2 linked regions of the Homo sapiens genome follow. The protein of the gene in region 2 interacts with the protein of the main gene of each other region in a pairwise test. Each region holds a gene or a part of one and is shown on either strand. Other genes may lie near its edges.

Evidence for each region. Proteins that work in one complex are often made in the same cells at the same time.
Region 1: the proteins of CTSD (region 2) and H3C8 interact in binary tests that used the Homo sapiens proteins (3 or more experiments, as listed by UniProt).

The regions. Positions count from the first base shown.
Region 1 is NC_000006.12:26,269,933-26,276,815, reverse strand, and holds H3C8 (histone H3.1), read left to right. Parts: upstream 1-5,402; 5' UTR 5,403-5,431; coding exon 5,432-5,842; 3' UTR 5,843-5,898; downstream 5,899-6,883. Other genes in the region: H2BC10 (histone H2B type 1-C/E/F/G/I), read right to left, coding at 3,460-3,840. UniProt on the Homo sapiens protein: Core component of nucleosome. Nucleosomes wrap and compact DNA into chromatin, limiting DNA accessibility to the cellular machineries which require DNA as a template.
Region 2 is NC_000011.10:1,760,562-1,768,648, reverse strand, and holds the start of CTSD (cathepsin D preproprotein), read left to right. Parts: upstream 1-4,721; 5' UTR 4,722-4,789; coding exon 4,790-4,857; intron 4,858-6,162; exon of another isoform or gene 6,163-7,180; coding exon 7,181-7,340; intron 7,341-7,454; exon of another isoform or gene 7,455-8,087. UniProt on the Homo sapiens protein: Acid protease active in intracellular protein breakdown. Plays a role in APP processing following cleavage and activation by ADAM30 which leads to APP degradation.

The sequences.
Region 1 (6,883 bases), on a different chromosome or scaffold from region 2:
GGACAAAAAGAAGACTGTCAGCTAAGGGTAAAACAGAAACCTAGCAAGGTCTTTTTGTTCAGATTTCTCTCAGACTCTCTAGGACTCATGAGGGTCCTATGACCTGTTTCAGGGGAGAAGAGTTGGGAAAAATCAGAGAGACCTTCCTGCCCACGATGCTTCTCATATTCTTTCACCCATGAGGGTCCTATGACCTGTTTCAGGGGAGAAGAGTTGGGAAAAATCAGAGAGACCTTCCTGCCCACGATGCTTCTCATATTCTTTCACCTTAAAATATTCAGTATGTCAAGGGGCCATATTTTGAGATAGTATGTTCTGAATGCCATCAAGATACACACTGCTGAGGGTAGATGGGAGATAGTAACTTCTTGGTTCTTTTCAGAAATTATTTACTGCAGGAGTGACAAATACAATAGTAGCAGCTACTCAAATCAGAGCCTAAAAATGATGTTACTTCTCTAGTGGTGAGGTGGTGTTCTTCAGCTTTTCAGGCCAGGAATTTACACCAATCAGTTTCCTTTGAAGTGACCTATGTCTCAGGGATACAATGGATTCAGGAAAGTGTGGCCCTCGTTAGCCAGCCAATTTCCTATGTTCCAATTAAAGAACATACTTATCAAGGTGCAGAAGTTCATCTGAAAACAGGGCTGTGATTTGGAGGTATATGAGGGAAACCTAGTCAACAAATGGATGGAAAATAAATGTAGCAAGGTTAGCAAAGTTAATAGGAAACTTGGGAAGAAAAAAGAGTAAAAAAGTACTAAGCACTTCTCATGTGAATTTCTAGGTTTCCTTACAACTCAACACATCTGACCATTAAATGGGGCACTCCTAGTTCCAGTGAGGGCATGAGACAGTCCCTGGAAAATATGAGACACGTTGCTTGAACTGGCAAGCAACGATAGGGAAATCAAACAGCCACAGGCAGTAGGATGTCTTCAAAATGCTTCAGAGGAAAACAATGGCTTTAAAGATGGGATTGAACTGTTCAAAGAGTATTATTTACACTGCCAGACAAAGAAGCCCATTTCACATCAAATGCTAATTATTCCAGGCCTTAGGACTCTGGGCTTTAAATGTGGGCAGGACCAAAGGCACCTTCCCTATCACTTCAACCAGAGGCTTAGCCACAGCTAATATTTAGGGGGTCATTCTCTGTGCAGACACGGTCCTAAGTGCTTTAGCTGTGTTCTTTGATTCGTCACTCCAGCAATGTCATGCAGTAGTTACTAATTATTATTCCTGTTTGGAATAAACAGGTAAGGAAGCGCTTACAAAAGAATTAGATAAATTGCCCAAACTTAGGATTGAAACAATCAGTCAGGACTGTATCACTTCCTGAGTGATGTCCCCCTTAATCCATGCTTGAATATTTCATGAATATATAATTTAAAATGTATTCAAAATTAGCTTTGGGGAGCAAGAAATGAATGCCTTAGTTATATTTGGGGCTTAGAGAATTTTCTTCACAAATTCCATTACAAATTTACTTTGAGACTAGCCTGGGCAACACAGTGGGACCCTGGCTCTACAAAAATCATTAAAAAAAAAAAAAAATTCAGTGGGTGTGATGGTGCGTGCCTGTAGTGCCAGCTCCTTGGGAGACAGGTGGGAACACTAGCCAGGGAGGTTGAATGCAGTGAGCTGTGGTTGTGTCACTACACCTCAGTCTGGATGACAAAGTGAGACCCTGTCTCAAAACAAAAAATTTAAAGCAAATTTTGGTCACTTAATGTTCACAGTAAGCTGCTATGTGGGTATTTGCAGATAATGACATGTAGGTAATAGATAGAAAATAAGATCTTAGAGCTCACATTTACACTGACAATGCCCATGTTTTCCCCACCACAATACAGTGCTCAGAAAAGTTAAACTTGCTGCCAGGTGATCTTTAGGGCCCAAAGGTCACCATTAATATTATTTTATTTTTAAAAGAAACTTTTGCTGGTGTAAGGACTTTGCTGTGCAACAAAGAATATGTGTATCTCCTGACCAGTTTTCTTTTATTACAATTGAGCCTAAATTTCCTGACTCCTCTGACAGCAACTAGGCTCCTGCTTGGGATGGTCTCTAACAAACAGTGGGAAGTAATCCTTAGAATCAGAGTAGATTCAAATCTCAGTTTTATTTATGTGTAAGGGGCTAGTTACTTAACCTTAATTCTTGAGGTCATTCACCTGTAAAAGAGGAGCTTCCATTTCACAGCTGACTGTAGGAAAAAAAAAATCAATGAATGAAATAATGCATTCTAAGGACTACCACACAAATGTTAATTCCTTGTAACCCTCCTCTCTTAAAATGAATTTTCAAGAAAGGGAGTAGCTGTGGACAAAGTCGTTCCAGGACACGGAGGAGGAGGTTTAGGGAGAACACAGTCCTTGGAGCCTTAAAAAGGCTTACAGATAAAAGCGTCTGAATGTAGCACCGGGAATTTTCATTTCTTTGCTCCAACTTCAGGCTATCCTGTTGCCTGTTCTTTGTCTTAAACCTCAATATGTTCAGCTAAGAAGATGGTAGAGTTCCTGATCTTGCCAAGAGGTAATATGTATAGCTACGTGAAGTAATCCAGTAATTATAAACTCAGTAAAATTTGTAGAGAAATCAGTGGACTTGCAAGGGGGATATGAGAACGTCTGGTAGCGATCTGCCATGGTTTAGAAATGCAACCAACAGAGGTGATTTCCTCCATCATATGCCGCTCCAACCATTTGCAAGCTAACAACGAACTAAAAGACGAGTTTCGCTTTCTCAGACCTTATTTTAGATTTAAGACTACCCCAAACTTGATTTCCACCCGGCTACTCCAAATCAAGGGCAATAGGATGATAAAGTGAAACTAAAAACGAAAACAAAATTTTAAGATGGTGGTGTGCGGGGAGAAGAAAAGTGGGGATCAATCTAGAACACGATTTTTCCTTAGCTGCTGAGTGAAATGTGTCATATTAAGCTGCATACGAGCTTACTCCTTGGTGACGCTTACAATCTATAGGGGAAAAAACAACGAACCTGGATTTTTTTTTGAGATGTCTCGCTCTTATACCCCAGGTTTGAGTGCAATGGCTCTATCTGGGCTCACTGCAACCTCCGCCTCCTGGGTTCAAACGATTCTCCTACCTCTGCCTCCCAAGTAGCTGGGATTAAGTTGCCTGCCACCACTCCCGGCTAATTTTTGTATATTTTAGTAGAGACAGGGTTTCACCATGTTGGCGAGGCTGGTCTCGAACTCCTGACCTCAGGTGACGCGACCGCCTCGGCCTCCCAAAGTGCTGGGATTACAGGCGTGAGCCACTGCGCCCGGCCGAACTTGGATGTTTCAGTAAACCCTTACTATCCCATGTGTTGCTTAGCCATTTTACCTTGCCAATGCCAAGTCTGGAAAATTACAGATCTTTAAATGACAACATGGGTGGCTCTTAGAAGAGCCTTTGGGTCGTTAGCGCTTTTACCCAGGTAACTAGTTTACTTGGAGCTGGTGTACTTGGTGACCGCCTTGGTGCCCTCCGACACCGCGTGTTTGGCCAGCTCCCCGGGTAGCAGCAGGCGCACAGCCGTTTGGATCTCCCTGGAAGTGATGGTCGAGCGCTTGTTATAATGCGCCAGGCGGGAAGCCTCGCCTGCAATGCGCTCGAAAATGTCGTTGACGAAGGAGTTCATAATCCCCATAGCCTTGGACGAGATGCCGGTGTCGGGGTGGACCTGCTTCAGCACCTTGTACACGTACACGGAATAGCTCTCCTTGCGGCTGCGCTTGCGCTTCTTGCCATCCTTCTTCTGTGCCTTGGTCACCGCCTTCTTGGAGCCCTTCTTCGGGGCGGGAGCTGACTTAGCTGGTTCAGGCATGTTCGCAGCCGAAGTGATACCGTCAAATGACCACAGGAAAATGCTGGTGAGCCCAAACGCCCTCATTATTTACCTCGTGTATATGCAAATGAGGCTGGCTGAGTTTCGGTTTCTCATTGGTTCTTTTAGTGTCTGAATATATGATAGGCCATTTCTGAACTCCTAAATCTCATCGGCTCTCCCAGAAGCTCAACCTTGCATAATTTGACCTTTCAACTATAAGTATGTAAGTCAGAAGTGGTTTTTTTTTTTTTTTTTTTTTTAAATTTTTTTAAACACCTGCTTTTCGATTGGCTGAAATCTGTGTTCAGGAGATAGCACAGTCTACTTTGCCGAATATAGATTATAAGAGTTTAGCTCTTGCGTTTTACTAGAATCAATCACTTTCCTTCTTCTAAACAAGTATTTAAATACTTCACTGCGTCTGGATGTGGAATGCAGGGCAGCAAAGCTCGCGCCAAGGCTAAAACGCACTCTTCCAGGGCTGGTCTCCAGTTTTCTGTGGGCCGAGTGCACCGCCTCCTCCGCAAGGGCAACTACGCCAAGCGGGTCCGGGCCGGTGCGCCGGTGTACCTGGAGGCGGTGCTGGAGTACCTGACCGCCAAGATCCTGGAGTTGGCGGGCAACGCGGCCCGAGACAAGAAGACCCGCGTCACCCCCCGACGCCTGCAGCTCGCCATCCACGACGAGAAGCTCAACAAGCTGTTGGGCAAAGTTACTATCGCGCAGGGCGGTGTCCTGCCCAATATTCAGGCCGTGCTGTTGCCCTGTCTATACAAGTGACTGACTAGGCAAACAGGACTAATGAGAAAATGTTTAATATCTCAAGTAAGTGCTTTAATGTAGTCGGGAAGAAGCAAGTTCAGTAACGTTTACAAAACCTTGTAAAGTTTAGATGGACAGGGCCACTGCAGTGTTCAAGTTATCCTGCAGAAGAGGCTAGTGGGGGTGGTATCCTGGAATATCATCAATAGGACCCAACGAAAAGTAAATGATAAGAGTCGTTGGAAAACCTAAAATTAGCCTGTGCCTTAAAAATTCTCAACCGAAGCAAAACACCATTTGGGACAAAATAGAATTCAGTTAACATTTGTTGCTCACTGTTGTATGTCGGTGACTTCTTGGCTCGTGATTTCCCAGGTACATCACCCAGGAATCCTGCCTTATAATGGTCAAAGGTTTCCAGCTAGCAGCAGTCCAGGTGACTCAAGAAAACGGCACAAGATAAACTTCTCAAAACGTGGTCCTCCGAATCTGGCCCCACAACACATCTACTGAATGAGAATTAGCGTCTTCCAAGTCTTAAAGTAGTCGTTTACGGACTACAGCTTGAGAAGCGCAGAATTAGAACTTTAAGAAGTTAACGTTCTTGGATCGCAGACTAACCGAGAAGAGAGGATTCAAAAATGAAGTGATTCATCCAATCAGATTTTCCAGTAATTCACCAATCACATCGTTGGACTCTTCAGCCAATGGTTTTGTTGCGCGGGTCTTTTGAAAATCAACAAGGCCAATTAGAATGTTTCTGAGTATATATAAGGGCAGTTTCCACTCTGCCAAGTGGCTGAGTTTTTCTTTCAGGTAGTCTGAGATGGCCCGCACCAAGCAGACTGCACGCAAGTCCACCGGTGGCAAAGCGCCGCGCAAGCAGCTGGCCACTAAGGCGGCTCGGAAAAGCGCGCCGGCCACCGGCGGCGTGAAGAAACCTCATCGCTACCGTCCCGGCACCGTGGCTCTGCGCGAGATTCGCCGCTATCAGAAGTCGACTGAGCTGCTGATCCGCAAGTTGCCTTTCCAACGCCTGGTGCGAGAAATCGCTCAGGACTTCAAGACAGATCTGCGCTTTCAGAGTTCCGCGGTGATGGCCCTGCAGGAGGCCTGCGAGGCCTACTTGGTGGGGCTCTTTGAGGATACCAACCTGTGTGCCATCCATGCTAAGCGAGTGACTATCATGCCCAAGGACATTCAGCTCGCTCGCCGCATTCGTGGGGAGAGAGCGTAGAGGTTTCCGGGCAGTAATTCTATCCAACTTAAAAAGGCTCTTTTAAGAGCCGCCTACTTTCACCCGAAAATAGCTGTGATTAACTAATCAAATCTTTGAAACTAAACATTGGTTTTAGTACTTAAGTCCTCATTTGATTGGCTAAAGTTAATGGTAAGCTTGCTATATTTGTTCCCGTGCTTTTTCCCGAAAGTGCCAGATTGTCAGCGTCCTTTTCTAAACTGGCTTTTAGGGGTTTGGAGCTTCGATTTGGTAGTGGAAGGGGCCACCTGGGGGCGTTTATATACATTGTCTCAAGCGTTAGTCGCGTTGTCTACTTACACCCATTATAGATGGGATTTTTTTTCGTTGTGTATTTCTGGTTAATCCCTTTTAAAACTTTACAGGTATGAGCATTGGCAGTTGAGAGTAGGTAGGGATATCCTTGGTTGCTGCTTTTTCGTGTCTGAAGCAGCTATTTCCACAATTCCCCCTTTTTTTAAACAGTTCTTGGTTTTTCTGTGAAATGATCCATTTTTTAATTCAATATTAGAAATTGGCGGCAGAAACGAAAGCCAGATTGGCCTCTACATTACTGGCAGCATGGGCATTACGTGGGAACTTGTTAGAAGCTCCCAGGGCATTACATGGGAGCTTGTTTCAATCCCCATCTAGGGCTGGAGTCAATCTGCATATACCTCAGATGATTCTCATGAACACTGATTTAGGAAGCCTAGGTTGTTGGTTTTGGTCTCATCAGTAAAGGCATCCTGCCTGTGAACTCTTACAAGGAGTGAGCTTTTGCAAAATGCATGTTTATTTATGTTACAGAATGAAATATTCTATGAAATGTTCTCTAAAGCAAGTGCACAGAACAATCCCCTAAAATAGTTTGATTTCTTTACAGATCAGTTTTCTCAATGTAACATTACAGTCACATGGGAAGGCTTTAGAAAAATCTTTACCTGGGGTTCAATGAGACTAATAGCAATCTAGAGTGGGCCCAGGGAATGGTAATTATTAAAATTCAGGTGCTTCTAACAGCTGGGGCTGAGACTCCTT
Region 2 (8,087 bases):
CTCCAGCCAGGGCAACAGAATGAAATTCCACCTCAAAAAAAAAAGGTCGATTAGAAGAGGCTTCTCTTCCCGCAGGGCCCTCCCCTGCCCCTCTCTGTGCCCTGCAGCAGCCTCCTCTTTGGTACGTTCCACTCCCCAAGCCCTGCGTGGGCGTCCCACCCACCCCCCAGCTTCATTTTAATCTCTGCCCCTCCACACACCTCCCCACCCCCACCCCTGTCTATATATGAACGGCACTGGGTGGGAATTTCCCTATTGTTTTCTCGATTTCCTAGAGCAGCGTCTACTCGTGGTAGGTGCCCGACACTCACATGTTGAGTGAATGAGCAGATTCTCAAGGCTCCCAAGGGACTGACCCATCCAGGCAGACCCTTTCCAGTCTGGGATTCAGCACTCCCCATGGAGAGGCAGGGTTGGGCTGACAGCCTCCAGCCCTTGCTTGCCCCTGTTAGGTGTCAGCATGCAGCGGGCACCCAGCAGGTCCGACTCCCTTCTCTGCCCCTTTCCTCTCGGGCACTTTGCCATCCTCTGATTCCCTGACTCTCCACACAGCCAGGAGGGAGCCGGAGAAGCCACGACCCCCGTCCTGTGGCTGGCTTCCCAGAGAGAAGCTTGGGGCCCCTCCGTGGTGGGAAGCTCAGTGGGCTGCGATGGCAAAGGCTGAGATGGAGCCTGGGCCTGGCCCCCACCTCCTGCCTCCTCTCCCCAGGTGGGCCGAGCACCCCACAGATGGAGCCCATGTCCCTGCATGCGGTCAGCCGAAGGGTGTGAAAGGTGAAAAAGGGCCCTGTCCCCTGCACTCTGCCAGAGGCGGGGCCTGGACACGCTGCAGCACCCACTGGCCCAGGAGCCCTGAAGGCAGCCCTGGTGGGAAGAGGGTCTCCTGAATCGGCCTGGCAGGTGCAGGAGTCTGGGGAATCTGAGCCAGACAAGGAGGCCAGGGGTCGCTTCTGTACCCTCAGCTCCTAGCAGGGGCAGGCAAGGGCTCCAGAGACCGTTAGCCCAACCTCAACTCTCCAGGGACAGAGGTGAGGCCCAGATTGAGAGGGTCTGCCCGGGTGAGCCAGAGGCAAGGGGATTAGAAGCCACTCCCTTGACCTTCACCCAATATGCCAGCAGGGTCCCACCCTGCCTGGTGGGTCAGTCCCTCGGGGACCCTGAACACCCAGGCATTCATCCCACACATAATTACTGGGCACCTACCACGTGCCGGGCTCTGCTCCAGGAGCTGGGAAGCTGAGCGGGCCCAGGCAGAATGCCCCCTCTGTAATAAACAGAATAACAGATGGTATCTGCGGTGGGGTGGGGCCTCTTCACCCTTGGGGCCCCGAGAGGGTCCTTGCTCAACAGTGCCCCGTTGTCTCAGGGGATGGTCCAAGGCTCTTAGCCTGGCTAGCACCGGCCCACACACCCCACAGCTCGCTGCCACGTTGTGCTTCTGGCCCCACTGGCCATCCGCACTACCCACTGGCTCGCAGCCTCACCGGCTCACCGGGACCTCTGGGTGGAGTGTCGGCCACGCTCTGTGGGCATGCGTCCTCACAGGTGCGTATCTCAGTATCCTGGACACCAAATGCTTCGTCCACCACTGGACCTGGGGACCGAGCAGGGTGGCTCAGGGGACACTAGCTGGGACCATCTTTCACCCCTTGCTGGAGTCCAGTCCCCCAGGGTCGGCTGACATCTCCAAGATCCCAGCCCACTGGAAAGCACGTGATAACCCCAGGTGCCAGGTCCAGGCTGGCCGTGGGCCCCCAACAGCTGGGCGGATTCTGAGGGCAAGGTGTGGACCCCCAGCAGCTGGGCAGATTCTGAGGGCAAGGGTGTCTGTCTGCTCGGGCTTCTGTGTTCAGGCTTAGAACCCCCTCAGATGAAGGGCTCTAAATGGGCGGGAAGGTGGGGCTGAGGGGGCAGCCACTCATTTGTGGCCATCAGGCAGATCCAGCTTCGGGGAGGTTCCGCAAGGGCCAAGGTCCTGATATATTTGGTTACAGAAAAGGTGGGAATTCCAATCCCGCCCGCCGAGAACCACAGAACCTCACTGCCTCTGTAAAGCGGGGTTGGGCCCATCTACCTCGCAGGGAGCTGGGAGGAGAAAACGCACCCTGGGTGAGAGCATGGGGAAGCATCCTTCATTTGGGTCCAAGCTCAGATGCCACCTTCTTGGAGGGACCTTCCTGCGGAGGTCGCTGTTGAGCACATCCCCTGGCTCCATTTCCTGTGTGACTTGGACCTGCCTTAAATGATTTGTCCCAATATCCCTTTCCTACTTACAGCGACCGCACCTCCCGCCTGGCTGTGTGCTCCAGAGCATCTGGGGAATGACCGGGCCCTCCCCTCCAACAGGCCTAATTCAGTCCCCCATGCCAGGCAGGACCAGGGCACACGAGAATGGTGAAGTCCTGGGGCAACTGTCACCATGGCCTCTGCAGGCTCAGTGTCGGGAGACCCAGTTTCTGACCTGGATACACTGCTCACCTTTGAGGTCGGGGCCTAGAGGGACGGTGCCACGTTGGAGACAGGCCTCCAGGGACAGTGCCACGTTGAAGACGGGGTTCCAGGGACGGTGCCACGTTAGAGATGGGGTTCCAGGGACAGTGCCACGTTGAAGACGGGGTTCCAGGGACGGTGCCACGTTGGAGATGGGGTTCCAGGGATGGTGCCACATTGGAGATGGGCAAGTCTGGGCTAAGGGAGGAGGGCCCAGGGTGGCCAGGGCAGGGCCCAGTGAGGTGCTGCTCTGAGGAGGTGGAGAGTGGGCGCTTGGGCAGGGGACACTTGGAGAGTAAGGATGAGGTCCATCTGGGTACCCTGGGTATAGGGAGTGTTGTTGAAAAAAAGCCAAACACTATAAAATATTTGAAGATATTTATTCTGAGCAAATGTGAGGACTATGACCTGTGAAACCACCTCAGCAGGTCCTGAGAATATGTGAGCAAGGTGGCTGGGTAACAGCTTGGCTTTATACTTTTTTTTAAAATTTTCAGGTCTTTTCTGTAGAGACAGGGTCTCACCATGTTGCCCAGGCTGATCTCAAGCTCTTCAGCTCAAGCAATGCTCCCACCTTGGCCTCCGAGTATGCTGGGATTATAGGCAACAGTCACCATGCCCGGCCTGGTTTTACGGATTTTACAGAGACAGATGTTACAGGCCAAAACCATAAATCAACATATGTAAGATATACATTGGTTCAGCCTAGAAACAGGGTTGGCAGGGGCAGCTTCCAGGTCATAGGGGATTCAAAGATTTCCTGATTGGCAAGTGGTTGAAAGAGTTATGTTTTGCCTAAAGAGTTAAAGTGGGATTACTCACGCCTGTAATCCCAGCACTTTGGAAGGCTGAGGCAGGCAGATCACCTGAGGTCAGGAGTTCGAGACCAGCCTGGCCAACATGGTGAAACACCATCTCTACTAAAAATACAAAACATATATACACATATACATGTATATATATATACACATATACATGTATATATATACACATATACATGTATATATATACACATATACATGTATATATATACACATATACATGTATATATATACACATATACATGTATATATATACACATATATACACATATACATGTATATATACACATATATACACATATACATATATGTATATACATATATAGTGTATATATATACGTATATATATGTGTATATATACACTATATATGTGTGTGTGTGTATATATATATATACATACGTGTGTGTATATATACATATTAGCCAGGCGTGGTAGCACGCGCCTGTAATCCCAGCTACTTAGGAGGCTGAGGCAGGAGAATCGCTTGAACCCAGGAGGTAGAGGTTGCAGTGAGCCGAGATCATGCCACTGCACTCCAGCCTGGGCCACAGAGCGAGATTCTGTCTCAAAAAAAAAAAAAAAAAAAAAAGAGTTGACGTGAGTGGACAAAAGGTGCCCGACCTCCTAAGGGAAGGAGCTTCTCTAGAAAACGCGAATTTCGCCCCCTCAAGAGACAGCTGTGCAGTGCCATATCAAAACATGTGAAAGGAATGTATTTTAGGGTGGAATACTTTGCCTGCCTTCGGGCCTGCTGTCTGCCACGTGAGGCTGTGCCAGTGTGAGGCTGGAATTTGGGATCTGGAGGCTAGAGCCATCGGTGAGGCCTGAGTCTCTAAGCACAGCGCCCAGAGGGAGAGGGCGGAGCGGGTCCGACCCCCTTTGCGGCAGGGCCTGAGCTGGTTTTCCAGGTTTCTCTGGAAGCCCTGTAGAGGAGCGGAGGGTCCATTCGGTGGGCTGGGGACTTTGAATTTAACCTTGGTTTGCAAGAGGCTTCCAGAGAGGATGTCTGGGAGCGTCTCGGAGGGGGACGAGGGGGCGCCGGGAGGAGCAGGTGCAGGAGCCCACGGCGCAGCGCCCCGCGCAGGCCTGGACGCGGGGACGGCCGCGGCGGCCGGGACAGGGGTCACCCCGCGGGGCCCTCCAGGGTGGGCCGCCCCACGACCCCAGGCCAGGCCGAAACGGGAATCCTCCAGACCCCAGAAGCTGGGCCGGGCTGACCCCGCGGGCGCGAGCGGCGGGAACTGTAGGCGCGGCAGGCGCACCACCACCCCGCCCCCCGCCCGGGCGCTGTGCGCGTGCGCCGAGGTTGCCCCGCCCAGGCCAGGCCCCGCTCCGCCCCGCCCCGCGCACGCCGGCCGCGCCCACGTGACCGGTCCGGGTGCAAACACGCGGGTCAGCTGATCCGGCCCAACTGCGGCGTCATCCCGGCTATAAGCGCACGGCCTCGGCGACCCTCTCCGACCCGGCCGCCGCCGCCATGCAGCCCTCCAGCCTTCTGCCGCTCGCCCTCTGCCTGCTGGCTGCACCCGCCTCCGCGCTCGTCAGGTGAAGCCTCAGGGGCCGGGGCTCAGGGACGGGCAGGGGTCGCGGCGCCGAGGTCCCGGGGCCTGTGGTGACTTTCGCGCTCCCCTGTGGCCCCCACGAGCCCCTTGCGCCCCCCGCGCTGGAATGCACCTGTGCCGCCCTGCGCGGCCTCCTGCACGGACCACCCGCCTACGGGGCGCCGGGCTCCGGAGGTGCAGGGGACCCGGGGCAGAGGCGCCAGATGCCTCTCCCCCATATGCCACCCTGGGTTGTACCTTGAGGACTGCAGACTGACCGCAGCCTCCCTGGAGACGGGGCGGGGCGGGGGGAGGTAGTGCTCATTCGGGGCAGGTGGAATTGGGGTCTGTACTGAGCGCCCTTGTTGCTGGAGACCTAGGTCAGGCCTCAGAGCCCCCGAGTCTGGGCGAGTCCATTTCCTTAGGGACCCCTTTACCACCTGTGAACTGGGGGCTTTAAAAGTTTGCTCCAGCGGCTCTTATCACAGGCCCTGGGCTGGGAGACCCCTCGAGACCCTAGGAGTTCCCATGTCCCTGAGAGAGGAGGAGGCATGGGGAGTGGGTCGGCTCACCCACCCCGGGCCTGGGGTTGTGCTGTAGTGAGGCCCACACGCTCCTCAGGCCGATCCCCTGTGCCAGGTGAGGCCACCGATTGGGCCTGGATGGGATGGGGCCCGGCCATGCCTGACCAGCTGGGCAGAGGAGGGCCATGCTGCAGTCTGCTTTCTTGACCCCCTCCCCAGCCCTTGCAAGGCAGCCCGCATTCCCAGGAGGGGTATGCTGACCCATCCCATTGGGCACCTGCCCCACCCTTGCTCTGGGCCTTTGTGGGAGACCTGGGATCTGCGATGGGTCCACTGCCTTTTGGCAGGTGGGTGAGGTCAGAAGGCTGCAGGGGCTGGAGCTGGCTGGGCCAGCTGGGTAGGACTGAGCCTCACCAAAGGCTGTGGGGAATGGCCCGGGGGCGGGTAGCCCCAATTAAAGTCGTTGTGGGGGAGTAGCCACAAGCCTGAGCCTGCCTTGACCTTGCCAGCCTATCCACAGGCCTCCCCTCTCCAAGGAGGACAGACACAGCAGAGGGGAAACGATCCTGGGGCTTCTTGGAGGGAAGGGTAGCTGAATCCAAGCCCTCACCCGATTCCAGCTCTTGTGCGACTGATACTATTACACCTGCTTCCTGGTCCCTGGAGGGCGTGTCCCTCCCCCAGGACAAAACCTGGAGCTCTTCCAGCCCACCAGCTCTTAGGCAATAATCTCATCTTCCGGGATCACGCCCCTGACAAGCCAGGAAAAGCCAGCTATGACCTTGTACTCTCAAGTCCCTGGGGCAGGGAAGAGGTTTTATTTAAGTGATTAAAAGCCCAGGGGAGCTTCCTTGGAACAAGGAGTGGGTTCACACCAAGGGGAAGGCCAGTGGCCCTGGGGGAGGAGCAGGGACCCCTCTCTCTCTTACTCGCTTCCTGGGTTTAGAACTCAGGACCCCGATCTCAGTCTGGAGCTCCCTCCTGCACCCTGGCTGGCGGTGTGCTGGGTGACAGGACTCTGGAGGGGTACCCTGAGTGCAGCTGTCGGAGGAGGCAGGGCGGTGGGGGGGGCAGCACAGAAGCCTCTAAGGCCCCAGGTGCAGTCCTGGACCTCGTGGAGCCGCATGGAGTGAGGAGAGGTGCGGATGCCCAGAAACAGATGTGGGATGAGGGCACTGGGCAGCCACAGGGTCCATGTGGAGGAGGACAGGTAGTCAAGGAGGGCTTCTGGAGGTGGTGTGGAGGGCCCATCTGATGGCCAGAGGAGGCCAGGCAGAGCTGCCAGTGCCAGCCTGGAGGTGGGGCCACCTTCGTGCAGGTGTCTGGGGGTGGAGAGCAGGTGTGATGGGGGCTGGGTACAGTGGGCTGCCTCAGAGCACTTTGGGCAGGAGTGACAGGTACCCGCCAGCACCCTGAGCAGCCATGCTGGCCACCATCCTGGAAGAGACCAGCGCAGGTGCAGAGGGAGGACGGGAGACCCTTGGGGGCTTTGGAGCCTCCAGAATGGCTGAGGAGAGGAGGGTTGGGCACACTGGCCCCCAGGTTGGGTGTGTGGGGCTGAGGTGGGTGGCGGGTGACCACTTCTTAGGACTGTGGCCTGTGCAACCTGGCGGGGGGCAATGGGTTGCCATTCACTGACTTGGGGGAGCTGGGCCAGCAGTTTCCAGGTGACAGGCAGGAGTTTGGTTTTGGCTGTGGCGACTCTGAGATTCCCCAGGGGCCTCCAGGTGGATGTGCAGCATTGGCAGCGTCGGCCGGCAGGCGGGAGGGCCTCCCTGATATGCCCCGACCCGTGGTTGACAGGATCCCGCTGCACAAGTTCACGTCCATCCGCCGGACCATGTCGGAGGTTGGGGGCTCTGTGGAGGACCTGATTGCCAAAGGCCCCGTCTCAAAGTACTCCCAGGCGGTGCCAGCCGTGACCGAGGGGCCCATTCCCGAGGTGCTCAAGAACTACATGGACGTGAGTATGAGGTCTTAGCCCTGCTGCAAGCGGAGCCACTGTCAGGAGAGCTCCGTGGCAGTATGGGGAACATTCCCACCTCCTGTTCTCAGCAGCGCAGTTTGAGTGGCTCACCTGGCCACGGTGGCGTCCCGGCTCAGCCACACTCCTTTCTTCCCCATTCTGGAACCTCCTGCCACTGGCCCCTGTCATTGCAGGGTCTTGGTCCTGCTAGGGCCTGGGAGGGTGATTGGGAGTGGCCTCGGGCCTTGGTGCCAGCTCGCCTGAGGGGGCGGTCCTTGGGCCTGCCTGAGTGTGGCCGGCTGACCTGGAGCCTTTCACTGCTGTCCTGCTGGGAGGCCTGTGGTGACTCGTGGCCTCCCCAGCCCCTCCCCATCTTCTTCCTCTCGCAACAGCCCCTCCTGTGCCCACTACTCCTTCAGGGGGAAGCAGGATCCAAGGTGGAGCACTCTGGAAGCCACCTAGCAAGCTGGGGCTTGGTCAGCCTGGTCCCAGCTCTATGGGGTCAGTTCGAGGCCAGGGCCTACTGTCCAGCCTCGGGGCTCTGGCCCACTGTGGGGGAGCCTTGCCCTCTGTCCTGCTTGGCCCGAGTCCTGGCTGTGACAGGAAGCCCAAGACTCACAGGCATGTGACTGGGCCAGGGGGGCCCTGGGGGGAACCAGGCGCCGTGTGCCTGGTCCCGACTGGCCAGTTCCTGATTGTCCTAGCGCGCGAGCAAGCAGATGCACGCATGCGCACACATGCACA